4 linked regions of the Homo sapiens genome follow. The protein of the gene in region 3 purifies or fractionates together with the protein of the main gene of each other region. This does not show direct contact. Each region holds a gene or a part of one and is shown on either strand. Other genes may lie near its edges.

What was found.
Region 1: the proteins of B3GNT3 (region 3) and SLC30A7 purify together in Homo sapiens (affinity purification with mass spectrometry; 2 studies listed by BioGRID and IntAct, with this or other methods). This does not show direct contact.
Region 2: the proteins of B3GNT3 (region 3) and SLC30A6 purify together in Homo sapiens (affinity purification with mass spectrometry; 3 studies listed by BioGRID and IntAct, with this or other methods). This does not show direct contact.
Region 4: the proteins of B3GNT3 (region 3) and GALNT12 purify together in Homo sapiens (affinity purification with mass spectrometry; 2 studies listed by BioGRID and IntAct, with this or other methods). This does not show direct contact.

What each region holds. Positions count from the first base shown.
Region 1 is NC_000001.11:100,913,075-100,920,412, forward strand, and holds part of SLC30A7 (zinc transporter 7), read left to right. Parts: intron 1-588; coding exon 589-732; intron 733-5,002; coding exon 5,003-5,053; intron 5,054-7,338. UniProt on the Homo sapiens protein: Zinc ion transporter mediating zinc entry from the cytosol into the lumen of organelles along the secretory pathway.
Region 2 is NC_000002.12:32,160,785-32,169,055, reverse strand, and holds the start of SLC30A6 (zinc transporter 6), read right to left. Parts: upstream 3,193-8,271; 5' UTR 3,156-3,192; coding exon 3,153-3,155; exon of another isoform or gene 2,867-3,152; intron 1-2,866. UniProt on the Homo sapiens protein: Has probably no intrinsic transporter activity but together with SLC30A5 forms a functional zinc ion:proton antiporter heterodimer, mediating zinc entry into the lumen of organelles along the secretory pathway.
Region 3 is NC_000019.10:17,804,981-17,812,318, forward strand, and holds part of B3GNT3 (N-acetyllactosaminide beta-1,3-N-acetylglucosaminyltransferase 3), read left to right. Parts: intron 1-2,777; 5' UTR 2,778-2,827; coding exon 2,828-3,394; intron 3,395-6,590; coding exon 6,591-7,142; 3' UTR 7,143-7,338. UniProt on the Homo sapiens protein: Beta-1,3-N-acetylglucosaminyltransferase involved in the synthesis of poly-N-acetyllactosamine. Has activity for type 2 oligosaccharides.
Region 4 is NC_000009.12:98,803,053-98,810,813, reverse strand, and holds the start of GALNT12 (polypeptide N-acetylgalactosaminyltransferase 12), read right to left. Parts: upstream 3,145-7,761; 5' UTR 3,116-3,144; coding exon 2,745-3,115; exon of another isoform or gene 2,608-2,744; intron 1,750-2,607; exon of another isoform or gene 855-1,749; coding exon of another isoform or gene 789-854; intron 1-788. UniProt on the Homo sapiens protein: Catalyzes the initial reaction in O-linked oligosaccharide biosynthesis, the transfer of an N-acetyl-D-galactosamine residue to a serine or threonine residue on the protein receptor.

The sequences.
Region 1 (7,338 bases), on a different chromosome or scaffold from region 3:
GCTCGGTGGTTTAGTCATTTTTAGGTATGCTGTGGAGAAAGGATTCTGCATTCTTTTGCATTTAGCTTTTTCTACCTGCTTTAATGTAATTTTACTGATTCTGTTACCAAATGCAGCAGCTTTCTTGTGTCTGCCTTAATGTGAGCATTTGCATATGTCTTGTTAATCTTTGTTAGTGTGTGTAATAGTACTTTGAAAAATTTTGGGCATGAATTTTGTCTTTGTTGTTTACTGCCTCATCTCCCGTGCCTAGAATGATTCCTATAATAGAAAATGTTACCAATAAATATTTCTCAAATGAATGAATATCATTATCTGACCTCTTTGGAGATATCTGTATACTTCCAGTCAGTACTTATTTTCATTTCCAGTAAGGTCTATCACTTTCCTCTATGCTTTCATTACCTTCTGGTACTCCATAGCAGAAACTCAGGATTGTTTTAACAAATGTGTAACACTTTTTACAAGTAAATGTTTATTGAATTGATCTGAGTTTAGAGCTGATTCTTTGCGCTAGTGTCAGTATAATTGTAACCATTTATATAATATATTTTTACATACCTTCTGTCCTAACACTTTGTTTTCTAGGCCACGGACACAGTCATTCCCTCTTTAATGGTGCTCTAGATCAGGCACATGGCCATGTCGATCATTGCCATAGCCATGAAGTGAAACATGGTGCTGCACATAGCCATGATCATGCTCATGGACATGGACACTTTCATTCTCATGGTGAGTACAGCCTAGAGACAAATGGACAGCCTCCAAATAAACAAGAGTTTTGTGGATTACTTTTCCTAGTTGAAATAGTTTATTAAAAAGATACCAAATCAACTTCTTTTCTAATGAATCAGTCTAAATGGTTCCCAGGGCTAGTTTATTTTTTGTATAGCATGAAATTAACTCAGTATAAGGCAGTGGATGTTCGCTTTTTTCCAGAGGGTATATCATAATAAAATGCCACTTTTTTATGTATTTATTTTTAATTTTTAATTTTTGTGGGTACATAGTAGGTGTATATATTTATGGGTTACATGAGACATTTTGGTATAGGCATGTAATACATAGTAATCACGTAAGGGTAAATGGGGTTTCCATTCCCTCAAGCATTTATCCTGTGTTATAAACAATCCAATTATACTCTTGGTTATTTTAAAATGTACAATGAAATTACAAATTGACAATAGTCACTCTGTTGTGCTAGCAAATACTAGGTCTTATTCATTCAACTATTTTTTTGTACTCATTAACCGTCCCCCTTTCCCTCCCCTCAAATGCCACTATTTTAAATGAGTACTAGTGAATGAGGAACAATTGCATTTTAGGAAATGAAAATCATAATTTTTTAAGCATCACGAGGCCTTTTGTGCTATATTGGCTTATAAAAATATGGTGGAGGTTTTCAATTTTTCACATTTGTATTATAATTTTTGATGTCTGTCACCTGATGTTTACCTCTATGTTTTTTTTAGAAATCTTTGGATGCTAACTTATGTAGCATTGGGTACTAAGTTATGAGGTGTTTATCAACTTAATATTTTATTTTGAATTATATTTTACATAGTTTATAAAGTATAGCTTAATAGAAGCTGCTTGGGTGACACAATTTGATTACTCTCAGTAGAGTGTATGCTTAAGTATTATCTTGTATTTGCAACATAGACAGAATCCTAAAGCTTTAGAATTGAAAATATGAAAGGGACCTTGAAGAGTGAGCCTTCTAAGCCCTTCATTTTTCAGTCTTTGAAATTTTTCCATGAGGCAAGAAAATAGCTTGAACCCAGGAGGCGGAGGTTGCAGTTAGCTGAGATCACGCTACTGCACTCCAGCCTGGACAATAGAGCTAGACTCTGTCTAAAAAAAAAAAAATTTCTAACTACTCTATTGAGATATGATTGACATATGAAAACAGATAAATATTTAATGTATACAACTTGATGAGTTTGAGGTAAGTATGCACCCATGAAACCATCACTATGATTTCTCCAATAAACATATCCGTTCCCACTGAAAGTTTCCTCCTACTCTCAATTCTTTCTTTTCTTTTTTCTTTTCTTTTCTTCTTTCTTTCCCTCCCTCCCTTCCTCACTTCTTTTCTTTTTTCTTTTCTTTTCTTTCTTTTCTTTCTTTCTTTCTTTCTTTCTTTCTTTCTTTCTTTCTTTCTTTCTTTCTTTCTTTCTTCCTTTCTTTCTTTCTTTCTACTTTTGCAGTAAGAGCACTTAACATAAGATCTACACTCTTGGCAGATTTTTAAGTATACAATACAGTATTAGCTATGGGCACTATGCCATACAAATCCCTAGGACCTATTTATTTTGCACAACTGAAACTTTGTACCCTTTGACTAATATTTCCCCTTTTCCAACTTCCTCCAACCACTGGCAACCACTATTCTATTCTCTGTTGCTATGAGTTTGACTATTTTAGATTCCTTATATAAGTGATATAAATGTAGTATTTGTCCTTCTGTGTCTGGCTTATTTCACTTAGCATAATGTCCTTCAGGATCATTCATGTGTCAAAATTAGAAGGATTTCTTTCTTTCTTTAAGGCTGAATGATATTCCGTTGTATGTATATACCACATTGCTTTATCCATTCATCTGTTGATGGACATTTAGCTTGCTTCCATGTCTTGGCTATTGTGAATAATGCTGTAGTGAATACGGAAGTGCAGATATCTCTTTGAGCTCTTGATTTCAATTCTCATGGATATATACCCAGTTTGCTGATCATACGGTAGTTCCATTATTGTTTTTTTGAGGACCCTCCATACTGTTTTCCATAGTGTCTGCACCAGTTTACATTGCCACCAGTAGTATACAAGGGTTTCCTTTTCTCTACAGCTTTCCCAACACTTACTGTCTTTTGCTTTTTTGGTAATAGACATCCTAACAGGTATGATATGATATCTTATTGTGATTCTGATTTGCATTTCCCTGATGATTAGTGATGTTGAGCATCTTTTAATGTACCTGTTGGCTATTTGTATGTCTTCTTTGGAGAAATGTCTATTTTATTCCTTCGGCCATTTATTACTTTTTTATTTTTTTAATAAATTTTTTTATTTTTAATTTTTGTGGGTACATAGTAGCTGTATATTCTTATTATTTATTTATTTATTTATTTTTGAGATGGAGTCTCGCTCTGTCACCCAGGCTGGAGTTCAGTGGTGCGATATCGGCTCACTGCAACCTCTGCCTCCCGGGTTCAAGTGAATCTCCTGCCTCAGCCTCCCGAGTAGCTGGATTACAGGCGTGTGCCACCACACCCAGCTAACTTTTTGTATTTTTAGTAGAGACGAGGTTTCACCGTGTTAGCCAGGATGGTCTCAATCTCCTGACATCGTGATCCACCTGCCTTGGCCTCCCGAACTGCTGAGATTACAGGTGTGAGCCACTGTGCCCAACCAGTAGGTGTATATTGTTATGGGGTACATGAGATGTTTTGATACAGGCATGCAGTGTGAAATAATCACATCATGGAGATGAGGTATCCTTCTCCTCAGGCATTTATCCTTTGTATTACAAACAATCCAGTTACACTCTTTTAGTTATTTTGAAAGGTACAATTAATATTGACTGTAGTCACCCTGTTGTGCTATCAAATAGTAAATCTTATTCATTCATTCTTTTTTTTTTTTTTTTTTTTTTGTACCCATTAACCATCCTCACTCCTGCAGCACCACACTACCCTTCCCAGCCTCTGGTAACCATCCTTCTACTCTCTGCTTCCATGAGTTTAATTGTTTTGAATTTTTGTACTCCACAAATAAGTGAGAACATGCAATGTTTGTCGTTCTGTAACTCTTTGACCATTTTAAAATCAGGTTATTTATTTACCTTTGCTGTTGATTGTGAGTTCTGTATATATTTTATCAGATACATAGTTTGCAAATATTTTCTGTCATTCTGTAAGTTGCCTTTTCATTTTGTTATTTGGTTCCTTTGCCTTGCAGAAGCTTTTTAATTTGATGTAATCCTTCTTGTCTATTTTTGCCTGTTGCCTGTGTCAGTCTCTAAAATATCCTGTATTTTTATAACAGTTACACTGGTATGCTTTAAAACCTTGCTTTTCCAACTTTTTTGCTCACATGCATCCCAAAATAATGTTGAAAAACTGCATATCTCTTACACTTTTGGCTATCAGCTGGATTTTTCAGGGTAGCTACTTCTTCATTCCCATACAGCAGTACAATATCTAGATAGGAAATATTATATGGTGTTATGCTTTTATATTTCTTTGTTACATTATTGCAGAACATTGTTATAATGCTCTATCAAAGCTGTACTGATAAGGGTACCTTGACCTTTTTGGTGCTGTGGGCCATGAACAAATGATGATAGTAGGTACATTGTTAGTTGTGATCAGAAAGCTTGTCAGTCTTCCTGATGATCTGTTTAAACAAATATTGCTCATCTTTTGCCTTGTTTTCCTATATTTTCTGTTTTAATGTTAAAGCTGAATAGTAATTTTCAAGATGTTTAGAGATAGAAATTATAGCATTTTGTCATCATAAAAGCAAAATGAAAAAAATTATTTTTATCTCTTCTGTATCAAGAGTTTGCCACATTAATCTAGAAGCTGTTGAAAACTACTGTTTACCATAGTCAAGTTATCTTTCTATCCTGGCTTCATTTCTTGGACCTCATAACTTCAAGCAGTACATTTGGGTTTCTCTGAATTTTCCAATTGTAAGAGTATTAAAAGATATTTTATGAATACTGGAAGATTTTCACAATGTCTTTAATTTCCTGTGCTTTTAATCTTTTTAATACAATAATTTCTGAAATACTCCATACTTTTGATGAATTTTAAAACTACTGCCACTAAATTTACCTCCACTCAATTATTTTATTAAATTTAAAAAATAAATTTGTAAGTTTGATATGGCTATATAGCCATGCATTCTTGATGATGCATTTGAATGAAAAGGACTCTGAATTGTAAAAACTTGAATGAGGAATTGAAAACATGTTTTAAAATAACTTAATTCTCTACAGATGGCCCGTCCTTAAAAGAAACAACAGGACCCAGCAGACAGATTTTACAAGGTATGACAAGCAATTTTTATGTTTCTTAGTTTTTTGAAACTGCTTTTATAGTTTTGAAGTTTTAGTTGTCTGAAGTTTTCCTTTAAGAAAAATATAAAACATAGTGTTTGTGTTTAGTGTTAGCCTTTCTAGTGATTGTTTTTTATATACTATTAGATATATTAGCAGACATTCTTTTAATTGTCACTTGACTGTTTTCTCTGATTTGATAATAAAAGCAAAATATAGAGCTGGGTGCACTTGGCATGTCCCCACAATCCCAGCTACTCAGGAGAATTGCTTGCTTGCGCCCAAGAGTTTGAGACCACCCTGGGGAACATATGAGACTCGTATCTCAAAAAGATTCGGAAACTATTCTGCTTGAATATAAGTAATACCCATGCCTGTGACTATAAACATTGTATAGATGCTTCTTGATTTACTGTGGGGTTGTGTCCTAATAAACCCGTGGTAAATTGAAGATACTGTAGGTTGAAAATGCATTTAATACACCTAACCTACCGAACATCATAGTTTTGCCTTGCCTACCTTAAATGTGCTCAGAACACTTGCATTAGCCTACAGTTGGGCAAAATCATCTAACACAAAGCCTATTTTATAATAAAGTGTTGAATATCTCATGTAATTTATTTAATACAGTCCACTGTAGAGTACAGTATCAGTTGTTTACCCTTGTGATTGCTTGGCTGACTGGGAGCTGCCGCCTGCTGTTGCTGCCCAGCATCATGAGAGATGATCATAGCACATTATTGCCAGCCCAGGAAAAGATCAAAATTCAAAATTTGAAGTATAGTTTCTACTGAATGCATACTGCTTTCACACCATCATGAAGCCAAAGTCATAAGTTGATCATTTTAAGTCGAGGACTGTCTGTAGGAGTATGTTTGCTTTTACAGGATTATTATGTAGTTTTTCCAAGAATAATATTTAATATGTTTTTATGTTGTGGGAAAATTTAGAGCTAAAGATTTAATGCAAAGTGAGAACTCCATAATATTTGTAGGCCATCAATAGCTAATACATGTGTAAAATTGTATATTACAAAGTTTTACATGCCAGAGAAAATCCTGTCTATGAATTATAGTAATTTTTTTTTGTTTTGTTTTGTTTTTGTGGGTGGGGCGGTAGGTTATTAATCAATCTCTGGCTCTGAGTTTCCATTTAGACTTTATTGTCAGGGTTTCCTAATTCCCAGCTATCTACTTGCCTTTATTAACTTTTGACTTCAGTCTGACTTTCTGAATGGCTTCTGATCCAATCTCAACTGCACCTATTTGTCTTCACTATTTCTTTATATAACTCTCGTTTTTTATTTTTTCACTGTGAATATATTCCTTCATACTGAGAAATTTATTTTCAGAAGGCTTAAATGTGTCTTCCAATCACAGGTTTTCCATTTACAAAAGATATGGAATTGTTTTAGAATAACATTTGCTGAAATAACATATAATCATGCATATATGATGCATCTATATCAAGTACTATAAATTAGCCTTGATAATAAGAATTTAATTTTGAAAGTCATCACAAGTTGGAGGAAAGGAAGTTAGATTTGCCTTTCTAATTCTCTTTTATATAAGTTATTGTGAAAATAAATTTATATTTTCTGAATATTTATCAATTTATGGTGGCTGAAGAGCCCAGTAAATAGCTGAAGAACAGAGAAAACTACCTGGCATTAAAAACTTCTTGTAAAATGACCAGGTAGATAGATACTCATACATGAAAAACTTGAATTAATTATGTTTTTCAATTATATGCTACATCTTGACTCCTGGCTTACTAAGGTTTTGGGGGGTTAGGTTATCAGTATCCTACCACATCTTCTAAGGCTTTTAACTTTGTATAAGTTAAACATCCTAGTTTATGTTTCTTTCTTAGTGATTTTTTTCTTAAACAGTTTATGTAGTAAGAAGGCTTTAGGTAGTTTTAATGACACTTACTAATAAAACCAGTTTTCAGGTTAGCAAATAAATGGTAGCCAGGGACTTTCCAGTCTAAGGAAAATCAAGAACAAATCATTATTTTCTTACAAATCATTATTTTCTTTTTCTTTTCATGTTTAGAGTTATTTTCATTTTTTATTCTACCAAAACACTGATTAAAGAATATAAAGGCTTAAAAGCATGTATCATATATAAGAGTTTGTAGTTAGGGACCTTCAATCTGCTTTGATGTGTATTTTTTTTCCAGTTGTAGTTTTAAAAGTTAAAGTGGCCCCAACATTATTAACCTATTTAATTCACTGCTATTTGAAATACGTGATAGGAACCGAATATTTATTC
Region 2 (8,271 bases), on a different chromosome or scaffold from region 3:
CTTAATACTGTTATTTTGGACATCTTCTGTTTAACCCTAGCCAACTTTAAGTTTCAGGTTAAGAGAATCAACAAGGTTTCTAAGAGGCAGAAAGCCACTTCTGATGCCATCCTGACAATGAAAATAAAACAAAAATCCTAATGTCATATCACTCTTCCCAAAATTATATTGGCTCGCCATTGCTATCAGAATAAACTACAAATTTTACAACCTGAATTTCCAGGTTTTCAATGACTTAGCCTGTTTCTTTCCAGTCTTATCTCTTACTCCAGATAGAAACCCTCAACTTCAGTTAAACTGGTCTACTCTTTTGTCTCATGACCACTCTTGCGTGAAAAGGCCAGATCTGTCTAACCCAAGCTCTTATTCATATAATGACAAACAAGTATTAGATTAAGAGTATTAGAGTGGGGCACAAAGTACTTAGTTTCATGTTTCACTTCTTAAATGAAGTCTTCCTAGATCATTCCAAACTATAGTGTTTTTTATGCCACTTATTTTGCATTAACCAAAGTAAAGCCTTCAACTTGTTACATTGCTTTGTAATTTTAGTAACTTCACTAATGACAAGGGCTATTTTCCTTTATATTTTGTTTTTATATACTTATATTTTTAATATTATATATTTATATTATTTATATTTTCTAAGAAGGCACTGTTTTCACACAGCATGTTAATAAACACAAAACCTTTTTCTCAATATTTTATTTTAAAATATTTATTTTAAAAAATAAACCTTAAATACTGTTTCCCTGCATGACTAATACTGATGTTTCAAGCATAAAGATATAGTGCCATAGGTTTTCAGTGCTTTATAAAACAGACGTTTTATTTGTATTTTTCTTTATATTTTCTAAGAAAGTACTGTTTTCACATAGCATGTTCTTAATAAACGCAAAACCTTTTCTCAATATCCTTTAAAATAAACCTTAAATACTGTTTCCCTGCATGACTAATACTAATGTTTCAAGCATAAAGATATAGTGCCATAAGTTTTCAGTGTCTTATAAAACAGATGTTTATTGAAAACTTCCTCTGGGCCAGGCACGCTACAAAGCTCTGGGAATTAGGGTGAAATACATAGGTCCTGCTCTCAATGAGCTTACAGTCTAGAAAGTGAGAAAGACAAATAAGTACACAACTTTAACATCGTCTGTAAGGATTACAGATGTTACTGGTAAAAAACACAAGAGATTCAAGTTTTACTTTCTTAAATTAGGGCTGTGAGTTAATGAAGGTGTATAATCTGAAAGACCTCTGAATTTTAAGTCTCTTATCCCTTTATCTTCAACTCCCTTCAAATCATCAGTATTATAGGCAAGTTAAGTTTCTATTGTATGTATTCGTTTTGTGCAGCTTTATGTAACAAAACTGGTGTGTGTGTGTGTGTGTTTGTGCATATAAAAGCACAAGGTACCACCAGAGCACAAAGGAGAAGCAACTAAGAGGATACTGGAACATGAGGGAAAGGTTCATGAAAAATAATTAAGGATATATAAGGGTTATTCTGATAAGGACAGCCGATAGAGAACAGAGAACAATTCTGGGGATGGAAGAGCATATGCAAATTAGGTACAAAGGCTCAATTAATACAGCATGATTTGCAAGCTATTCACTGTGGCTGAAATACGGATGTTGCATACATGTATGCATTAAAAAAAAAAAAAAAAAAAGAGTTTGTGGCCTGGCACGGTGGCTCACGCCTGTAATCCCAGCACTTTGGGAGGCAGAGGCGGGAGGATCACCTGAGGTCAGGAGTTCGCGATCAGCCTGACCAACATGGAGAAACCCCGTCTCTACTAAAAATACAAAATTAGCCAGGCGTGGTGGCGCATTCCTGTAATCCCAGCTGCTCGGGAAGGTGAGGCAGGAGAATCGCTTGAACCCGGGAGGCGGAAGTTGTGGTGAGCCGCGATCGCGCCATTGCACTCCAGCCTGGGCAACAAGAGTGGAACTCCGTCTCGAAAACAACAACAAAAAAAGAGGCTGTAAAAGTAAGAAGCTTGATAATGAGTGGCTTTGTATGCCATGCTAAACAGGACTTTATCTTGAGTGCTACAGAAAAAAAAAAAAGGAGAAAATTTGAGTAAGGGAGTGATGTGGTCAAATTTTAGAAATATAACTCTGGCTACAGGCTTCACAATGGTGAATGTTTTGAAGAAGAGCGTAACTGAAGGCTATTTGATCATTAGCCAAAAAGTGTAAACTTTTACCCATTTTCTGTGTGCAAAAGGATTACAGAAAATTTACAAAACATAAAGTGTGTGAATGAGGCATTTTCCCGACCATATCCACTTAAGTAAAAAACTTAGTACAGTGACAAAAGCTTAGGCACAGAAATGTGGTCTCTTTCTCATACGTAGGCTATCAATAAGTACTCCATAAATTTTTCTAATAAATGCATTTTCAAAAGGCACACGCCACTTGGACACTTCAAATCCCAACCAACTGCTTATCTTTAAAGTTCAGAGCTATATATTTGAGCTCTAAAGGCAAAGAATGACTAATTCTAACAAATTTGAGAGAAAACACCATATCCCAACAACCATAACGTCTACTGGGTCTTCCATTAGTTTCTACAAACCCAGAAATAAAGCAGCAATAAAATGTCCTACCAACACCTTGACTTTCTGTAGTTACTGCGCTTATGAAATTTGCTGCCGTAATCAGGCTACTTAATATTTAGTAAAGCCAAGTTGCAGAGTGAGACGTCTGCCCTAAAACCCTATTACTAACCTTTTTTTTTTTTTTCCGCTGGCGTTATCGCCACTGCTCTAAGAATCACTATTACAGTTGTTGCTGTGGACTTGTTTTCAGATCTTTTGTTGGTGGCCTAGTTGTTGACGCTGGCAAAAACTTTTATTACCTTAAAGAAATCTCGGCAGAGGGAAGTCAGAAACTCGCCAGGAGCTGAAAGCTCTGCCTGCAGCGGGGCCTAGATCGTGAGCGCCTGCGGAACAGGTGAGGGACCGAAAGGGACCAGAACTCTGAAGGGGAACATTTTGGGAGACAGCCGCTCCTGCCAAGGGGCCCGACTTCAACTCCAATGACCCCTCCTCTGGGTGGCTGAGGGATTTCAAGGTCGCTTCGGGACCAAATAAGATAAACCGAATCAGCTACAGCCGAAACCCTCACCCCAACAGCCAACTCACCATGATAAGGAGCTGCACAGCTCCCGCCGGAAGCCGTTCTGGGTGCTCGAGTTTTCCCAGAACGGAAGGGGTGGGGCACCAGTGGGCGATTGGCTGTGAGGAAAGCGTGGGAGGAAGTGCGTGCTCTGGCCTCCGGCTTCCGTCCCCTTCCCGGCTGTCCCTGCACTCCGTGGCGGAAGGCGGCTAGAGCGGCTCCCTCTGAGCTCTCCGAGAGATTGGTCGGGACCTGAAGCGTTGAGGTTAAGGGCAAGGCAAGGAGCAACGAGGAGTTTTTCGTTACGTTAGAAAAATTTCGTTGCGTGCTGAAGCGCTTTTACCTGTGTTGTATGATTTAACCTTATGAAAATGGACAGTATTCCAGTTTTACAAGTGAGGAAAGAAGATTAAGAAACTTGCCTCCGCCAGGCGTGGTGGTTCACTCCTGTAATCCCAGCACTTTCGGCGGCGAGGCAGGCGGATCACTTGAGGTCAGGAGTTCGAGACCAGCCTGGCCAACATGGTGAAACCCCGGCTCTACTAAAAATGCAAAAATTAGCCGGGCGTAGTGGCACGCGCCTGTAATCCCAGCTACTCTGGAGGCTGAGGCAGGAGAATCGCTTGAACCTAGGAGGCGGAGGTTGCAGTGAGCCGAGATCGCGCCACTACACTCCAGCCTGGGCGACAGCGCGAGACTCCGTCTCAAAAAAAAGAAACTTGCCTTGAGTCCTACATATAGTTTGCTGTAGTAGCAGAATTTGAACTCGGACCGACTAATGGTCTACTTAATAAAATGCTATTTGGATTCTCTATAAAATTAATAATATAGAAGTAATGTTAATTATAGAAAACTTGGAAAATATTAAATTCATTCGATAAAGATTGAATATGTAGCACGTGTGTTTGTCAGATACTGGTCTCGTGAAAATTATATTCTGGTAGGGAAGACAGAAAACAAGTAGGGATAAAGAAATTTTTAAAAGATATTCATAAGTAGTGTCGTGTAGAAAACTGGGTATAGGTTGAGTATCCTTCATCCCAAATGCTTAAGACCAGAACTGTTTCAGATTGTGGCTCTTTATCTTGGGGATGGGGCCAGAGGCTAAACTTGAAATTCATTTATGTTTCGTATACACCTTATGCACATAGCCTCAGGGTAATTTTATGCAATTTTAAAAATTGTGTGTGTATCAAACAAAATTTTGACTACAGCTTTTTACATGCGGTCAGGTGTGGAATTTTCCACTGTGGCATCGTGTTGATGATCAAAAAGTTTTGATTTTGGAGCATTTTAATTTCAGATGGTTGGATTAGGGTTGCTGAACATGTAATGGTATACAGAACAACTGAGTAGGTGTGGTGCTCACGTCTGTAATCCCAGCACTTTGGGAGGCCTAGGCGGGCGAATCACGAGGTCAGGAGTTTGAGACCAGCCTGGCCAACATGGTGAAACCCTGTCTGTACTAAAGATAAAAAAAATTAGCTGGGCGTAGTGGCGGGTGCCTGTAATCCCAGCTGCTAAGAAGGCTGAGGCAGGAGAATTGCTTGAACCCGGGAGGCAGAGGTTGCAGTGAGGCGAGATCGTGCCCCTGCTCTCCAGCCTGGGCAACAGTGCAACACTTCATCTCAAAAAAATAAATAAGAAGTAAAAAATAAATAAAATCGTAGGTATTATCATCTATCGACAATCTGTTCTCCACACTGCAGCCACAGTAATCTTTTTTAGTAGAGGAGAGGTCTTGCTATGTTGCGCAGGCTGGTCTGGAACTCCTGGGCTCAAGTGATCCTCCTGCCTCAGCCTCCCAAGATGCTAGCATTACAGGCATGAGCCAACACCCCTGTCCTATACCTAGGATTTAATGAACATTCAATATGTGGTAGGCAGTATTCTAAGAATTTGAGGCCAGGCACAGTGCCTCATGCCTGTAATCCCAGCACTTTGGGAGGCTGAGGCAGGCAGATCACTTGAGGTCAAGAGTTTGAGATCAGCCTGGCCAACATGGCAAAACCCCGTCTCTACTAAAAATATAAAACTTAGCCGGGTGTGGTGGCAGGCACCTGTAATCTCAGCTACTCGGGAGGCTGAGGCAGGAGAATTGCTTGAACCCAGGAGGCGGAGGTTGCACTGAGCTGAGATGAAGCCTGGGTGAGAGAGATTCCATCTCAAAAAAAAAAAAAAAAAGCCGGGTGCAGTGGCTCATGCCTGTAATCCCAGCACTTTGGGAGGCCAAAGCGGGTGGATCACGAGGTCAGGTTTTTGAGACTAGCCTGGCCAACATAGTGAAACCCCGTCTCTATTGAAAATAGCCAGGTGTGGTGGCAGGAGCCTGTAATCCCAGCTACTCAGGAGGCTGAGGCAGGAGAATCACTTGAACCTGGGAGGCAGAGGTTGCAGTGGGCCGAGATCGTGCCATTGCACTCCAGCCCAGGCGACAGTGCAAGACTCTGTCTCAAAAAAAAAAAAAAAAAAAAAAAGCACGATTATGTGTTAGCTCATTTAATCCTCATAACAGCCTTTGACATAGGTACTACTATTATCCCCTGCTTGGGAAAATCACACACCTAATCAGTGGCAGATTATAGACACGTGCCACCACGCCCGGCTAATTTTTGTATTTTTAGTAGAGTCAGGGTTTCACCATGTTGTGCAGGCTGGTCTCAAATGCCTGACCTCAGGTGATCTACCTGCCTTGGCCTCCCAAAGTGCTGGGATTACAGGCATGAGCCACTGCACCCGGCCTGGAGAGGTACCTTTAAACCATATAAATATCACATTCCTCATTATGCTTGTAATTTGTTTATGTTTGTATTCATATATTCACATGAGCTCATGGTTTATTTCTTCTGATGGGTTATAATTAATTACTACTATTACTTATTTTGATGCTCAAATTTGTCCAGTGGGAACCCTTTTAATCTGTGTGTCATTTCAATGATTCATCCTCATCAATCTTTGGGCACTTTTTCTCTCTGGCACAAGAAGTTCCACACTCATGTATTTTCTCTGCCCCAGCCCTGAATTTAGCCATTTTATCAAAGAGTCTTGGTTCCTTTAGTTGATGTTATGGACTGAATATTCGTGTCCCTCAAATTCATATGTTGAAGCCTTCACCAGCAATGTGATGGTCTTTGGTGATTCAGCCTTTGGGAAGTACCTAGGGTTAGATGAGATAATGAGGATGGGACTGTCATGATGGGATTAATGCCCTTTTAAAAAGGGACACCAGAGAGCTTGTGCTGTCTGCCATACAAGGACACGGTGAGAAGGTGGCCATCTGCAAGCCAGGAAGAAAGCCCTCACTAGAAACCAAACTGGCTGGTACTTTAATCTTGGACTTCCAAGCTTCTAGAACTGTGAGGATAAATTTCTGTTATTTAAGCTGCCCAGTCTATGGTATTTTGTAATGCAGCCCAAGCAGACTAAGACAGTGAAGAATTTGGAAGGCAAGATATGGGTACTTTATGTGCTCATTATTATTGGAGCATAACTGCTCCAAGGCCACCTTGGTGGACAGACTAGGGAATATACATATTTGGACACATACACACGTGTATATTTATATGCTTATATGTCCTCTATTTTTATTTGAGGCAGGATCTCGCTCTGTTGCCCAGGCTGGAGTGCAGTGGTGCGATCTCAGCCCACTGCAACCTCTGCCTCCCAGGTTCAAGTGATTCTCGTGCCTCAGCCTCCCAAGTAGCTGGGACTACAGGTGTGTACCACCACACCTGGCTAATTTTTGTATTTTTACTAGAGATGGGGTTTCGCAGTGTTGGCCAGGCTGGTCTCAAACTCCTGATCTCAAGCGATCTGCCCGCCTCGGCCTCCCAAAGTGCTGGGATTATATGCGTGAGCCACTGTGCCCAGCCGATATTTCATCTATTTTTATAGATTTTAAACCATGAATTCACTTTCTTAAACCCAATTCAAGCTGAACTCCAGGTTTCATTCTAGTTTCCCCCCTTTCTGTATTTATAATTACCTTCTCTGTGGTTAGTATATTCACTTTATTCCATCAAGTCTTTGGTGTGCAACCAATCTACCATCTCTGCTGACACCCTTACCCCATATGGACACCCCTTTCTGTGCTTGAGCTTATTCCTCATTCCAGGTTGCCCCTATCCACCATGTGAATAACTGCCTCAATCTGTCCCTGACACCTCATACCTAGCTGTCCATCATTGTAGACACTGTCTTCACCCTATTAGGTCTCTGACACCCAAATTTGGACTTCCATAGGTCCCCTCTACCCAATGTAAGCACATTGATCTGAACCACTGTGCAAACACGTGCCTGGGACTGCTATCCCCAGAAAGTCCTGCTGGCAAGGTTGGCCCTTGCCAGGCATCTGGGAACTTGAATTTGAGGGGAGATTCCCTCTATTCCCTAACAAGCTTACTATGTCTAACAGTGAGGCTTAACACTTTCACATGCTGTCACTTGTTGCTGGAGTGACATCCTGTGTGACTTCATTAGGAGAGAACCCTTAGAAGCTGGTGCTTGGTTTCCTCTGGACTTCACTTAATTCCTTTTTTCCCTTTGCTGAATTTGCTTCATATCCTTTTGCTCTAATAAATCATTGTTGGGAATAAGACTATATGCTGAGTCCTGTGAGTGCTCCTAACGAATCATCAAACTTGCACATAGTCTCGAGGGCTTAACCACCTAATGACTTTAAAACAATAGTTCTGGCAGGGTGTGGTGGCTCTGCCTGCCTGTAATCCCAGCATTTTGGGAGGCCGAGGCAGGAGGATCACTTGAGCCCAGGAGTTTGAGACTGCAGGGATTTTGAGACTGATTACGCCACTGCTGTCCAGCCTGGGGCAATAGAGACTCTGTCTCTAAAAAAAAACCTCAACCCCCTGAAAAAAAAAAAATCCACAACAGTTCAGGAAGGAGGAAGGTAAGCAATTTAGTGACATTATTAATTTCAGCTCTTCCATCCCACTGTTTTATCTTACACTTCTTTGCTCTGTTTTTCTTTCCTTGATTTCATTTGACTAATCACATAATTCTTAGTGACCCATTTTATCTTCTCTAATGGCTTTTTAGATCTACTGCACCCCAGTGATGGGGTGAGAGATTACAAAATGCATTCTTATCACAATCTACCTTACACTAATGCTATCTCACTTTGTGTAC
Region 3 (7,338 bases):
GGACTACAGGTGTACACCACCACACTCAGCTAATTTTGTTTCATTTTTTTATTTAGCAGAGACAGGGTCTCCCTTAGTTGCCCTGCCCTGACTGAAATGTCCCTAATCCCTTAGTGACCACAGGGATTTTTTTTTTTTTTTTTAATGACAGTCTCTCTCTGTTGCCCAGGCTGGAGTGGTGTGATTATAGCTCACTGCAGCCTCAAACTCCTGGGGTCAGGCAATCCTCCCACCTCAACCTCCCGCATAGCTAGGACTACAAGTATGCATCATCACGCCGGCTAACTTTTGTATTTTGGGTAGAGATGGGGTTTCACCATGTTGCCCAGGCTGGTCTCAAACTCCTAAGCTCAAGCGATCCTCCTACCTCAGCCTCCCAGAGTGCTGGGATTATAGGCCTGAGCCACCTTGCCCAGCCCACAGGGGACTTCTTAAAGGCATAAATCAATCTGATCCCTCCCCTGCTCATAGACCCTCCATGGCTCCTCATTGCTTCTCACAGGAAACATAAGACATTCTTTCTGGCGTGCCCATTCTATTCTTGTACCCTAGCAGGGTCCCATAACTCCACCATCACCTCCTTTCTCTCGCCCTGTCCCAACCACGTCAGCCTCCTCGCTCTGCCACCAGCACCCTAAATTTGTATCCATCTCAGGGCCTTTGCACATGCTCCACTCTGTCTGGAATGCCCTTCCCCACAGTCTGCTCAAGTGAATTCCCATCATCCTTCAGGACCTCCCTGATCCTAGGTTGCTCAGGTCCCCTGTGGACCTGCCTCAGTAACAATTAGTATGGCTGTCACTAATTGTTAGTATCATTTACAATTTTTTTTTTTGAGACAGCATCTTGCTCTGTTGCCCAGGCTGGAGTGCAGTGGTGTGATCATAGCTCACTGCAGCCTTGAACTCCTGGGCTCAGGTGGTCCTCCCACCTCAGCCTCCCAAGTAACTGAGACCTCAAGCACATGCTACCACAGCCTGCTAATTTTTTGTTTTGTTTTGTTTTGAGACAGAGTCTTTCTCTGTCATCCAGGCTGGAGTGCAATGGTGTGATCATAGCTCACTGCAGCCTCCACCTCCTGGGTTCAAGTGATTTTCCTGCCTCAGCCTCCCGAGTAGTTGGGACTACAGGCACCCATCACCATGCCTGGCTAATTTTTGTATTTTCTTTTTTTTTTTTTTGTAGAGAGTGGGTTTCCCCATGTTGGCCAGGCTGCTGTTGAACTCCTGACCTCAAGTAATCCACCTGCCTTGGCTTCCTAAAGTGTTGGGATTATGGGTGTGAGCCACTGCGCCCAGCCTAATTTTTGTGTTTTTTGTAGAGACGGGGTTTCACCATGCTGCCCAAGCTGTTCTACTTATTGTTATATTGAGGGCAGGGCTGGCTTGGTCACAGCTGTATCCCCAGCATCTAGCATACAGTAGGTGCTCAGTTAACACTCTAGGGCTGATGAGCACTGTGACAGTTAACAGGATTGGACTCATGCACGTTCACGGATATTCACCTGTCTGTGCCCCAGGTGGCCGAGAGTTGGCCAGGTTCTCTTTGAGGGATGTTTGGTGCCATCCATGACGCAGTCCCTTGTGACAGATTCTGGGAGGCCCTGAGGTGTTGGAAGGGAGTCTCCCAGTGACCCCGAGTTGAGGGACGTATGAGATGGGCATACTGCACCCATCAAAGTTCTGGGTTCCGGCTGGGGACGGTGGCTCATGCCTGTAATCCCAGCACTTTGGAAGGCTAAGGTGGGCAGATCATGAGGTCAGGAGATCGAGACCATCCTGGCCAACACGGTGAAACCTTGTCTCTCCTAAAAATACAAAAATTAACTGGGCGTGGTGGCGCGTGCCTGTAGTCCCAGCTACTCTGAAAGATGAGGCAGGAGGATCGCTCGTATGCAGGAGGCGGAGGTTGAAGTGAGCCGAGATTGTGCCACTGTATTCCAGCCTGGGCAACTCCATCTCAAGAAAAAAAAAAAAAAAAAAAAGTCCTGGGTTCTGATACTGCTCCATGCTGTAAGTGGGAATAGCTGGGGAATCAAGGTAGCCAGGATGGTGGACTCATGGTCACTGAGGCGGTCACCACACAGCTAATATGCATCAAGCCCTTTTGCAGTCAGGGAGCAGTGGCCCCAGTGTGTGTGTGTGTGTGTGTGTGTGTGTGTGTGTATTGGAGCAGGAACCTCAGCACCCCCATGTCCTAATAAGGAAACTAAGACTTCACACAGAAAGGCAGGGCACAGTGACTCATGCCTGTCATCCCAGCCCTTTGGGAGGCCGAGGCAGGTGGATCACTTGAGGTCAGGAGTTCAAGACCAGCCTGGCCAACATGGTAAAACCCCGTCTCTACTAAAAATACAAAAAAATTAGCCAGGCATGGTGGCTCACACCTGTAATCCCAGCTACTCAGGAGGCTGAGGCAGGAGGATCGCTTGAACCCATGAGGTGGAGGCTGCAGTAAGCGGAAATTACACCACTGCACTCCAGCCTGGGCAACAGAACAAGAGAGAGAGAGAGAGAGAGACGCTGTCTCAAAAAAAAAAAACAAAATTAAAAAATTTAAAAAATTAATCCCCAGCAGGGAGGGCCAGGGCACCTGTCAGAGCCAACAGGGGTTGGAGTGCTTTGAAATGGGTCTTGCAAGGGGTGGAGGAGTTAAGTGGGGGGTGAATTTCAATATTTTGCCAACCTGAGCAACTGTACAGGTGCAACCAGATGTTGGGGGCCACAGGAAAAGCGCTTTGCTCATGGCGAGTGTTCAGTGAGTTTTGTTTTCCACAGGAGCCGCCCAGGAGGCTCCTCAGGCCGACCCCAGACCCTGGCTGGCCAGGATGAAGTATCTCCGGCACCGGCGGCCCAATGCCACCCTCATTCTGGCCATCGGCGCTTTCACCCTCCTCCTCTTCAGTCTGCTAGTGTCACCACCCACCTGCAAGGTCCAGGAGCAGCCACCGGCGATCCCCGAGGCCCTGGCCTGGCCCACTCCACCCACCCGCCCAGCCCCGGCCCCGTGCCATGCCAACACCTCTATGGTCACCCACCCGGACTTCGCCACGCAGCCGCAGCACGTTCAGAACTTCCTCCTGTACAGACACTGCCGCCACTTTCCCCTGCTGCAGGACGTGCCCCCCTCTAAGTGCGCGCAGCCGGTCTTCCTGCTGCTGGTGATCAAGTCCTCCCCTAGCAACTATGTGCGCCGCGAGCTGCTGCGGCGCACGTGGGGCCGCGAGCGCAAGGTACGGGGTTTGCAGCTGCGCCTCCTCTTCCTGGTGGGCACAGCCTCCAACCCGCACGAGGCCCGCAAGGTCAACCGGCTGCTGGAGCTGGAGGCACAGACTCACGGAGACATCCTGCAGTGGGACTTCCACGACTCCTTCTTCAACCTCACGCTCAAGCAGGTGCGCTGGACTGGGGTCACCTGATCGGGGCCACCTGTCCTTCTTGTCCAAATTACCACCCACTCCTGAGGGACCCAGGGGACCAGAAGTCCTCGTCAGTCCATCACAGCCCATTCTGCCCCTCTGCTGTCCTCACCAGCCTCGTGGAGACCCAAAATGGTCTTCTTCTAGGAGAGGCTAGGGGGAAGGGCAGAGGAGCTAGGTTACTAGCACAGAGCTCAAGCCTGATGATGCGGATTCGAATCCAAGCTCTGCCTCTTACTTGGTGTTCGACCTTGGAGGAGTTCATTCACCTCTCTGTGCCTCACTTTTCTCACCTGGAAAATGGGATGTGAATGAGTCCCACCCACCTCTAAGGGCTACTGTGAGGTTTACAGGAGATGGAGTTTATAAGGCACCCAGACCAGTGCTGGATGTCCAACTCAACTTGGCAATGACGGGGGACACATCTCCTTGTTTATTTTTATGTTTATTTATTTTTTTTTAATGGAGTCTTGCTCTGTTGCCCAGCCTGGAGTGCAGTGGTGCGATCTGGGCTTGCTGCAACCACCTCCTGGTTTCCGGCGATCCTACTGCCTCAGCCTCCCAAGTAGCTGGGATTACAGGCACTCACCATGCCCAGCTAATTTTTGTATTTTGAGTAGAGACGGGGTTTCACCCTGTTGGCCAGGGTAATCTCGAACTCCTGACCTCAGGTGATCTTCCCGCCTCGGCCTCCCAAAGTGCTGGGATTACAGGCGTGAGCCACTGCGCCCGGCCAACATCTCCTTGTTTATTTGTTCCGGTTCTGTCTCCCCATGAGGCTGGGGGCCTTGTCTGTTTCACTCACTGCTGTGTCCCTAATGCCTAGAATAGATTCAGGTGCACAGCATGTGCTCAGTCAAGACCTTTTTGATGGACAAGAACCCATGAGAGGTAGCTAGGCTTGGTGGCTCATGCCTGTAATCCCAGCACTTTGGGAAGCTGAGGAGGGAGGATCGCTTGAGCCCAAGAGTTTGAGGCCAGCCTGAGCCACATAGCGAGACCTCATCTTTTTCAAAAAAAATTTAATTAATTAATTTTTATGTTTTTTTAATTAATTTTTTTTTTTTGGATGGAGTCTGGCTCTGTCCCCCAGGCTGGAGTGCAGTGGTGCAATCTCGGCTCACTGCAACCTCCACCTCCCAGGTTCAAGTGATTCTCCTGCCTCAGCCTCCTGAGTAGCTGGGAATACAGGTGCATGCCACTATGCCCAGCTAATTTTTTTGTACTTTTAGCAGAGATGGGGTTTCACCATGTTGGCCAGGCTGGTCTCAAACTCCTGACCTCAAGTGATCCTCCTGCCTTGGCCTCCCAAAGTGCTGGGATTACAGGTATGAGCCACCACGCACAGCCTCGTCTCTATTTTTTTAAAAAAAGAAGCCATGAGAGGTGAGAAAATCCTGCCCATCTGCAGATGAGGAAATGGAGGGGCTCTAAGAACCCCTCCTAGGTCCTCGAGTAGAGCAAGACAAGTAGAGACAACATTTTCAAGGAGGAACAGGGAACTCTGCAGGTTCCTGCTCATAGGAGGTACAGACAGGCCTGGGTTCAAGTCCTCTGGTAGCTGTTTCTCTGCGGGTGACCTCACTGCAGTTTTCTCTGGAGAGCCTCTGTTCCCTCATCTGTAAATAAGATAGAGGACCACTTCTGCCTCCTAAGGGTGCATTCAGGATTCAAGGTAGGGTAAGCACCAAGCACAGCGCCCGGCAACAAACAGATACCCAGCCTGTGTAGGTTACTGTAGGGGAAACTGAGGCTGAGGCGGGTAGGGGCCATGGCCTCTTAACATGCTGTGTTCTGAAAACACAAAAGTGGCTAGGCACAGTGGCTCATGCCTATAATCCCAGCACTTTGGGAGGCTGAGGTGGGCGGATCACTTGAGACCAGGAGTTCGAGACCAGCTTCTTGGGAGGCTAAGGCAGCAGGATCGCTTGAACCCTGGAGGCGGAGGTTGGAGTGAGTTAAGATTGTGCCACTGCACTCCAGCCTGGGTGACAGAGTGAGACTCTGTCTCAAAAACAAAAACAAAAAACCCTTTAAAAGTGTGTGATAAACATCAGCTTGACAAATATGAACCCAGCACCCGTGAAGCACTGGCACTATGCTGGGTGCTGAGGGAGATGGCATGAACAGAAAAGAGAGACACAGGCCCAAGGAGGGAAGTCCAGTGTTTGGTGGGAGAGGGGGATGTTAACAATCACACAGGTCAGGCACGGTGGCTCACACCTGTAATCCCAGCACTTTGGGAGGCTGAGGCAGGTGGATCACCTGAGGTCAGGAGTTCAAGACCAGCCTGACCAACATGGTGAAACCCTGTCTCTACTAAATACAAAAAATTAGCCAGGTGTGGTGGTGCATGCCTGTAATCCCAGCTACTTGGGAGGCTGAGGCAGAAGAATTGCTTGAACCTGAAAGGCGGAGGTTGCAGTGAGCCGAGATTGCACCACTCCACTCCAGCCTGGGCAACAAAAGCGAAAACTCCATCTCCAAAAAAATAATAATAATAATAATAAAATAAAAATCACACAAAGGCCAGGAGTGGTGGCTCATTGCTTGTAATGTCAGCATTTTGGGAGGCTGAGGTGGGAGGATCCTTTGAGGTCTGGAGTCTGAGACCAGCCTGCGTAGCATAGCAAGATCCCATCTCTTAAAAAAAAAAAAATTATTAGCCAGGAGTAAGTAGCGGCATGTGTCTGTAGTACCAGCTACTTGGGAGGCTGAGGTGGAAGGATCACCTGAGCCCGGGAATTTGAGGCTGCAATGAACTATGATCATAGCGCTACACTCTAGCCTGGGCAATAGAGCAAGACCCTGTCTCAGAAACAAACAAAATTCATACAAATGATTATTTAACAACAGGGCTTGGCCAGGCAGAGTTGGAAGGAATAGCAATACATGTAAATGTAACAATTTTCCAGCATTTCTTGGTGCTTCATGGAGCATGGTCTCCATGGATTCCCCAACACTCCTAGAGGCACATGATAAGGCCTGTTTGGAGAGTTGAAACCAAGGCACAGAGAGGGTTTCCCAAGTAACCCCACAGGGCAGGGCCTTAACCCAGGCTGGATTGTGGACACTTCCTTTCCTGGGCTTAGTGGGCTGGAGTGGCTAATAGAGACCCAAGGCCAATTTCTCCAGCCCTCAAGCAAGCATGCCCTGTCCACCCTGCCTGCAGGTCCTGTTCTTACAGTGGCAGGAGACAAGGTGCGCCAACGCCAGCTTCGTGCTCAACGGGGATGATGACGTCTTTGCACACACAGACAACATGGTCTTCTACCTGCAGGACCATGACCCTGGCCGCCACCTCTTCGTGGGGCAACTGATCCAAAACGTGGGCCCCATCCGGGCTTTTTGGAGCAAGTACTATGTGCCAGAGGTGGTGACTCAGAATGAGCGGTACCCACCCTATTGTGGGGGTGGTGGCTTCTTGCTGTCCCGCTTCACGGCCGCTGCCCTGCGCCGTGCTGCCCATGTCTTGGACATCTTCCCCATTGATGATGTCTTCCTGGGTATGTGTCTGGAGCTTGAGGGACTGAAGCCTGCCTCCCACAGCGGCATCCGCACGTCTGGCGTGCGGGCTCCATCGCAACGCCTGTCCTCCTTTGACCCCTGCTTCTACCGAGACCTGCTGCTGGTGCACCGCTTCCTACCTTATGAGATGCTGCTCATGTGGGATGCGCTGAACCAGCCCAACCTCACCTGCGGCAATCAGACACAGATCTACTGAGTCAGCATCAGGGTCCCCAGCCTCTGGGCTCCTGTTTCCATAGGAAGGGGCGACACCTTCCTCCCAGGAAGCTGAGACCTTTGTGGTCTGAGCATAAGGGAGTGCCAGGGAAGGTTTGAGGTTTGATGAGTGAATATTCTGGCTGGCGAACTCCTACACATCCTTCAAAACCCACCTGGTACTGTTCCAGCATCTT
Region 4 (7,761 bases), on a different chromosome or scaffold from region 3:
GTAACTAACAAAACTATACTCGAATCCACTGGCATGTAAATTATTAGATTCATAGAGGGGCCCAGGTCTATACTGGCTCTCACAGAATTAGGACCAGTACTCTAAAATGTCTTTTTAGTGGTCTGGCCTTCTTCAAGAAGGCAGACACAGTGCCACACCCTGCTGACACCAGGAAGAGTCAAACCAAGTGGTCCCTTAGTCATTCCCAACTCCTTTCCTCTGATAAAAGGCACTGCAGAGTAAAGACTTTCATTAAAAGTCTAGGAGGCACAGCAAAATGTTAACAATGGTTCTCCCTGAGTGGTAGGTTTATTGGGGATTTTCATTTTTTTCCTTTTCTGTTTCTCTGTGCATGCCAACATTTCTAGAGTGAATATGCATTGCTTTCATAATTAAAATAAACATAGAAATAATCATCCCCACCCAAAAAGGGAGGAACGAGTAACAGATATGGACTGTGGCTCTGCCTGAGATGTGCTATGTGACCTGGGGGTGTGGCTTTTCCTCTCTGGTTAGACTAGATGCTCCTCCCTCAGGGCCCTCCCTCCTGCAACATTCAAGGACCCTCATTATCCCTCTGTTTATTAGACTCGCAGAGAACCCCATACCCACACTGTGAACTTATGATCTGCCATTCAGGTTTCTCAGGCAAAATCTCAAGACCCTGATTAGCTCCTGGATGAACTGTAATAAAAGTGAGATGCCACAAAATACCCTGACCCTACTGACCACTCTGAAGTTACATCTCAAAGCCTGGCCCAACAGAGACCCACACAGCTCAGGCTCACCTTTCTCTCTGGCTGGGTAAGAATAACCCAACAGGCCTTGCTGCAGGAATTAGAAGCAGGAGGCATTCACACTCCTTATCATGCTGGGTTTGGCTTAACTTCCAGGGTCAATGCAACAGCAGGATCTACAAGCAAATCCTGAGAGGACACAGGGCAGCTGCGTCACCATGGAGACAGGTTACCATAAGCCCCACAGATTGTCCACAGTGTTTCAAAGAGATATTCACAACCTGCGACAATAAAGGAAGTTGGATCCAGGAAAGAAAAACTACAACCAATCCCTGGATGACTCTCAAAAGCAACCTCTTGAGTACATTCTTGGCAACAGGGAAAGGTGAAAAAACTAAGATTTAAGCACACAGTGTGCTCCCAGGTATTGATGCTTTATTAATTCCTAAGTTGTGTTCTTTCCACTCACTTTTATGTAGAATGCATGGAGACTCACTTTTATGAGTTTCCTATTTCGCAAACGAAGGGAAACCAAGGCTCTGAGAGGCTAAGCAGCTTGCCAGAGATCACAGAAGTGACGAGCAAAAGAACCAGGATTTTATCTCCCCTGGGCTGGATTTAATCTGAAGCTGGGTATAACCTGAAAGCTTCCCCTCCACCTTGCCTCAGCGGGCACCCTCGGGGTTTCGAGGAGCTAAACATGCGTTAGGCTGGTGAGTGGAGGAACTACTATCAATCCCAACAAAGTTTTATTCAAAAAGACTAACAGTGAAAAATGCCTCAGGCAGAAGCATGAGGCTAGGCATGAGGAGATCCCCAAAACAGGGAAGACAGTGGAAACAGTGGGGCAGAGGTGGGGCATCCTCATTCCATCATTCATGGTCTCTCTGGCCAAGGTACCATGGAGCAGGCCCCTAAAATCCTGAGATCAGCATGGTGCCAAGTGGGCCAGAAGGGCCATAGTCCCTCCAGACCAGTCCTACCACATTCCAGCTGAGGGGCCTTGGGTGGGTCACCTATCCTTTCCGAACCTATTTCCACACCTGTAAAGCAGGAATGGCTTGAAGGGGAGAGGAGTGGCAGGTGCCTGGTGCACACGGCAGGCTGCCACCACCAGCTCCAATGGGAACCCCCTCTCTGAGTCCTCTTTTCCTCAAAGTCTGTAAGGAAGGGGCTCAAAAAAGGACTTGGAAGATCCCTGACACTTCGAAGAAAAAGTGAGAGCCCGGGAGGCCCAGCGGCAAAGGTGGCAGCAGCCACCTGTCCTTCCTCCTGCTGCCAGCGTGTGCCCTGGATCCCCACCTAGGCAGGGGCGCAACCTGCCCAGCCAGTAGCTCCAACAGGAACTAGGCCTCTGACCACGCTGGCTCCAGTCCAGCACCACCCACAGGAGTGAGCTGGGGTGGATCACGGCCAGAAGGAGCCCTTCCCACCCCGTGCCCCTTCCCGCCTTCCTCCACCCAAAGCTCAGAAATCCAATGCCCAGGGAGAGCACAAGGAGGCTTTCTAGCGCTGAGGGGGCCTTACAGCCATCTTTCGCTTCACCTGTGGGGCGCTCCCTCGCATCTTGTTTGTCCCTTAGGCCCTGGCACACACAGAGAATGAATGGAGCCGGTCACCGCCCGGAGGAGTTGTCAGTTTCGCGGAGGCACTGCGAGGCGGGCAGAGCGGGGTTGTCCTTTGGGTGCTGGGGGGTCCTCGCCTTAAACCCTTCTGCTTAGCCCTGACCCTCACCTTTTCAGGGAGATGATAACTTCTCAAGGAGAAGGGAGCTAAGAGATCACTAACAGACTTGCCAATTTCTGGTAATTTTTTTTCTACTTTCGTCTTTTTTACTTTCTTGCCTCCCCGCCCCCATGTGAGCTCTTACACTATCGTCTTCGGAGAAAGACTCAATAAGACGCGCCATCCTGGAGACCCCAGCTCCCCGCCCTGCCACTGCTCTGATGGAGAAACTGAGGCCCGGGGCTCTGAGGGCGGGCTTCCTCCCCAGAGCTGTGCACTCACAGCGGGTTCCAGCGCTCGGGCAGGCGGCGGTGCAGTGAGATGCGGTCGCTGAGGTAGATGTTAATCTGGTGCAGCCGCACGCTCTCCTCCTGCAGCCGCAGCTCCTCGCCCTGCAGCTGCAGCCGCACCGCCTCGCCCCGCGCGCCCAGCGCGTTCGCCGGCACCGGCGGCCGCGGCATGACCGGCTCGCGCCGCCCGGGGCGCGGGGTGCGCGGGGGTCCCGGCTCGGCAGCCCCGGCCCCGGCCCCACGCTGCGCCCGCAGCACCGAGCCCAGCCCGGCCAACGCCAGTAGCGCCAGGAGCACCAACAGCGCCTCCCGGCCGCGCCGCAGTTCCCGCGGGCAGCGCCGCCGCGCCGTGCGCCCCCACATGCGCCCGCCAACTGCAGCCAGCGATCTGCGCGCCCCAAGGCGGCGGTGGAGGCCAGGACCCGGATCCCGGAACCGCCGTGCCGCCCCGCCCCCGGCCCGCCCCACCTGCGCGCCGCCCCCTTTCCGTCCAGCCCCGCGCCAGCCCAAGCGCAGCCCCCGGGGTGGCTCATTTCGGCAGGGTCTTCAAGTGGGCTGGCTGAGACTTGCATCTTCCTTCTTGGGCTATGGTGCATTATTAAAGAGATAGTGGTGGTAAAACCCTTAGCGCCTGGCATATTGTAGGCGCTAAGTGTTGGCTGAATACACCCTGCAGGGTGTTATGAATTCTACTGCCATTATCTCATCTGATCTTTACACAGTCCAATAAAACAACCATCAACTAGGATTACGAGCTCCCTTTTACAGATGAGGAGATGGAGGTGCGATGAGATCAACAGACACCACGCTGCCCCACTGACTTCTGCAGGCCCAGCCTCTGCCATACTCTTTGGAGTCCTTGAATAGCAAACCCTCGCCTGGCTCGCCTCGTGATAGCTCTGTGACCTCTGAGGCTAGGAGCAAAAGGCCATGAAGGCTGTACATGATAGTTCACACCTGTAATCCCAGGCCGAGATAGGAGGATCACTTGAAGCCAGGAGCTTAAAACGAGACTGGTCAACATAGCAAGACTCCCATCTCTACAGAAAAATTTCAGAATTAGCCATGCATGGTGGCACGTGCCTATAGTGCCAGCTACTCAGGATGCTGAAGCAGGAGGATTGTGTGAGCCCAGGAATTGGAGGTTACCGTGAACTATGCGCCACTGCGCTGCAGCCTGGATGACAAAGCGAGATCCTGTTTCTATTAAACAACAACCAAAAAAGGCCATGAAGCTGCCGCCCTGTTCATGAGATCACTGCTGTGGGAGCCTTGAGCTGCCAGGGACGAAGTAAGTCTAATGGAGTAGACAAATATTAAAAAGATAATTAGAATTGTGTTAAGTATTTTGAAGAAGAATTACAGGGCGCTAAAAGGGCTTAGAATAGTAGAACTTGATCTAGTTTGGGGGTTTTGGAAAGCTTCTCTGATGAAGTAATGTCTACACAGATATCTGAATGTAAAAGTGATAGCAGAGATTTCAAATCATATCTTAAATTAATCTGGAACTCCCTCTGCTGGTGTCTAGCTCAGGGAAAAGAATCATTCTGTATCCCCTGTAGAAGGATAGAGTGTAAGCTCTATTTGTTGTTGTTTGTTTTACCATGGGAAGTTGGTCCAAAGCTTTTTATCAAATATTCTCAAGGAGACCAGAAGCCCAGAAAGTTTAAAAAGCACAAATCTGGTCCAATTATCTCATTGATAAATGCGGGGTCTGAGACACAGGGTGGGGAGAGGACCTTGAACTTGGCGGCTCAGGTAGAGGTAGAATCTGACTTGCTGTTGTCTTCATACAGCCTTTGGCTACTGGTATCCCCAGAGGAAATCTCCCTCAGGTTGCAGGAGGGGGGTGGGTTTTGGGATGAACCATGCAAAGCAGCTCCCACTCAGGACAACCTGCTGCTAATATTAGACTAGAGGGAAGTGGCTCTTCCCACAGTGCTCAGGGCCCCGCCTGCTTCCCACGCAGAATGGAGGCTGCTGGTTAATGCCAGAAGGCGGTTGTGTTAGGTAGGTCTGGACCTGAGCCCTTTGGCCTCTGTTCAGACACCCAACACATTTAAGATCTGCGGTCAGATTAGAAAACAGACAAGGATTACAATTCATAATGTCTTGGATCCGCTTGCCAAATTGGAATGCTTCTCAATAGAGGTTCAGATACAGAGAAAAGAGAAATGCAATTAGGCCTTACAAGACATGGACTTAAGCCCCAGGTAACAGATAAAAGCTATTGTTTACTGAGCACACACTGTGTGCTGTAAACTGCTGGACTTTCTTTTTCATGTACTTTCTCATTTCACCCTATGACAACCTTGCAAGGTTGACAGATGAGAATATGTAGGCTCAAGAAGTGAAGCAACTTGCCCAAGGTTACACAACATGCAAGCGGTAGAGGGAGGATTTGTATCTGGGTCTCCTGACTCACAGTCCAGGATTTCCCACCACACCACTCACTGTTGGGCAGGCTGCAATGAGATGCAAAGGCAGCTTAGCTTAGGAGGTCGGAACACAACCTTGGAGCCCACTTGCCTGAGCTCAACCCAGCCCCATCACGAATTGCAGTGTGACCTCAGGCAAGTTGCTTTACTTATCTCGGCTCAATTTGCTCATCTATTAAATGGTGATCTAATGATAGCACCACCTGAACAGGGTTGTTGAGAAGATTGAGTGATACAGTCTGCACAGTCAGCCTCCCGGGGCACAAAACAGAGTGGAGAGAGTGTCAGTAAGGCAAAGGGAAGATGTCCAGCACCTTGCTGAGTGAAGTATGATATTTAGACCAGAAGCATTGGTACCACCTGGGAGCTTGTTGGAAATCTAGCATCTTTTCAACAGAGGTAAAGCCCTTGGGTTTATTGCTATTTTTAGGGGGCTTATCTGTTCACTAACAGTACCATGTTATGTCATCGGCTGCTCACCAACAAGTAGATATCTCTAGAAGATGCTTTTAATTTGTCATATTAGCTCTCTTCATAGGAGTTATTACATTCCTTTTAGAGTTTAATATGATCTATGGTAGATGTGGTATTTCAAATATTAGTGGGGAACATGTGCCTAATTCAAGTAATAATTGGGACAACTTGATAACCATTTGGAAAAAATTCAAATCAAGTCCCAACATCACACTTTACATCAAAATAAATTCCAAATGATCTGAAGATGCCACAGTAAATAAGCAAAAAAAGGAAGGAAGGAAGGAAGGGAAGGGAAGGAATTTAATTATAAAAGTATTGAATGAGAAAAACCAGAGACCATATGGAAAATATTTCTAAATGTGACTATATAAAAATTTTGAATTCTGTAAGGCTTCCAGTATAATACAAAGTCCAGAAACAAAAGGCAAGTCAGAAAGAGATATTTGCAGATGACATTTACCCAGTATGTGAATCAATAGGGAAATAAAGAGAACAAACAGAAATAAAAATGGTCAAAGGATTTAAATAGACAGTTCCCACCCAAAAGGATATAAATAGTTTATAAAAGTATGAAAATATGCTCGATCTCTCTAAAATACATACAAAATAAACCTACCCTGAAATATTTTTTCACCTATCAGACTGGCAAAAATGAAAATGGCTATTAATTCCAGTGTTGGCAAGGATGTGAAAAAACACTCTCATCCACTGTTGGTAGGAATGCAAACTAGTATAACCTTTTGGAAAGCAATTAGGCAACATTTATTAGAAATGTTAATATTAACATCTTTTTGATTTTGCAATTCCACATCTAGGAATCTATCCAACAAACATAGACTCGTAAGTGCTCAAAAGATATGCATACAAGGAAGCTTATGGCAGTATTGTATATAAAAGCAAAAAGTTGGAAACAATCCAAATTTCCATCAAGAGATTATAAAATAAAATATTGCACATCCGTACAATACCATAATATACCACAGTGCTATTTGCAAGCATGAGTTAGTTGTAGGCATTTAACATACACATGTGTTCAAGATGCATTGTAAAGAAAAGAGAAGCAAGTCGTGGAGCTATATGAATAGTATGATCCTATTTTTGTAAAATAATATATATTAACATATGAAAGGGGAAAAAATCTAAAGGAATATTTACCAAACCATTAACTATATTATATTTACTTCTGATGGGTGAGATTCTGTGGTCCTTTCACTTTTGTTCCATTTATTTGTTTTTTTTTCAACAAATATTTATTGATCACCTACCATCTGGGAGTCAGTGTGCTAGATTCTGGGGATTTGAGGTAAACAATATCCAAAGCCATTGATCTCAAGGAGTTTACATTCTATATTTCTACAACATCAGAATTCTTTAAAACAATCGTTACCTTATTAGGAAAAAAAAGACATTTAAAGTAAATATTGTACTCTTTCGAGATTATTTTACTTCTAAGCCTTCCTTATCTCCTGCCTAATCCACTCTGTCAGTCTGTGGTCCTCCTGTCCCCCTGCTCTCTCCTTCCAATATGTTTCCTCCTTTTTCCTACAACGACCTAGACCCCACCCATCATTTCTGCCCAACTTGTAGCCAAGCTCTGCCATGAAGCTGTCAGTGGCATCCTCCAAACTGTGACATCTTCCTTTGAATTGACGATGAAAACTCATAGACCCCACTGTTCTGCAGTCATGTGGGATTTCCTGGGAGCCATGAGGCCATGTTTCTATCATTCAACACACATAATGCCTAGCACACAGAAGGTATTTAGTAAATGCTGGCTGAGCCTGGTACCGTGGCACACACCTATAGTCCCAGCTACTCAGGAGGCTGAGGCAGAAAGATCACTGGAGCCCAGGAATTTGAAGCTGCAGTGCACCACGATGGTGTCTGTGAATAGCCTCTACACTCCAGCCTGGGCAATAAAGCAAGATACCATGCCTAAAAAATTCAAAATTAAGAAAAAATTTTAATTTAAAAAAGTTGGTTGAAAGGAATTGTGTTGGAAATGAGGTGCATTGCTCAGATTACCCTTTGGGAGAAACTTTTAGGGGAAACACGGTTGACTGCCAGCTCCCAGTGGCTATGCCTTTGGATCCT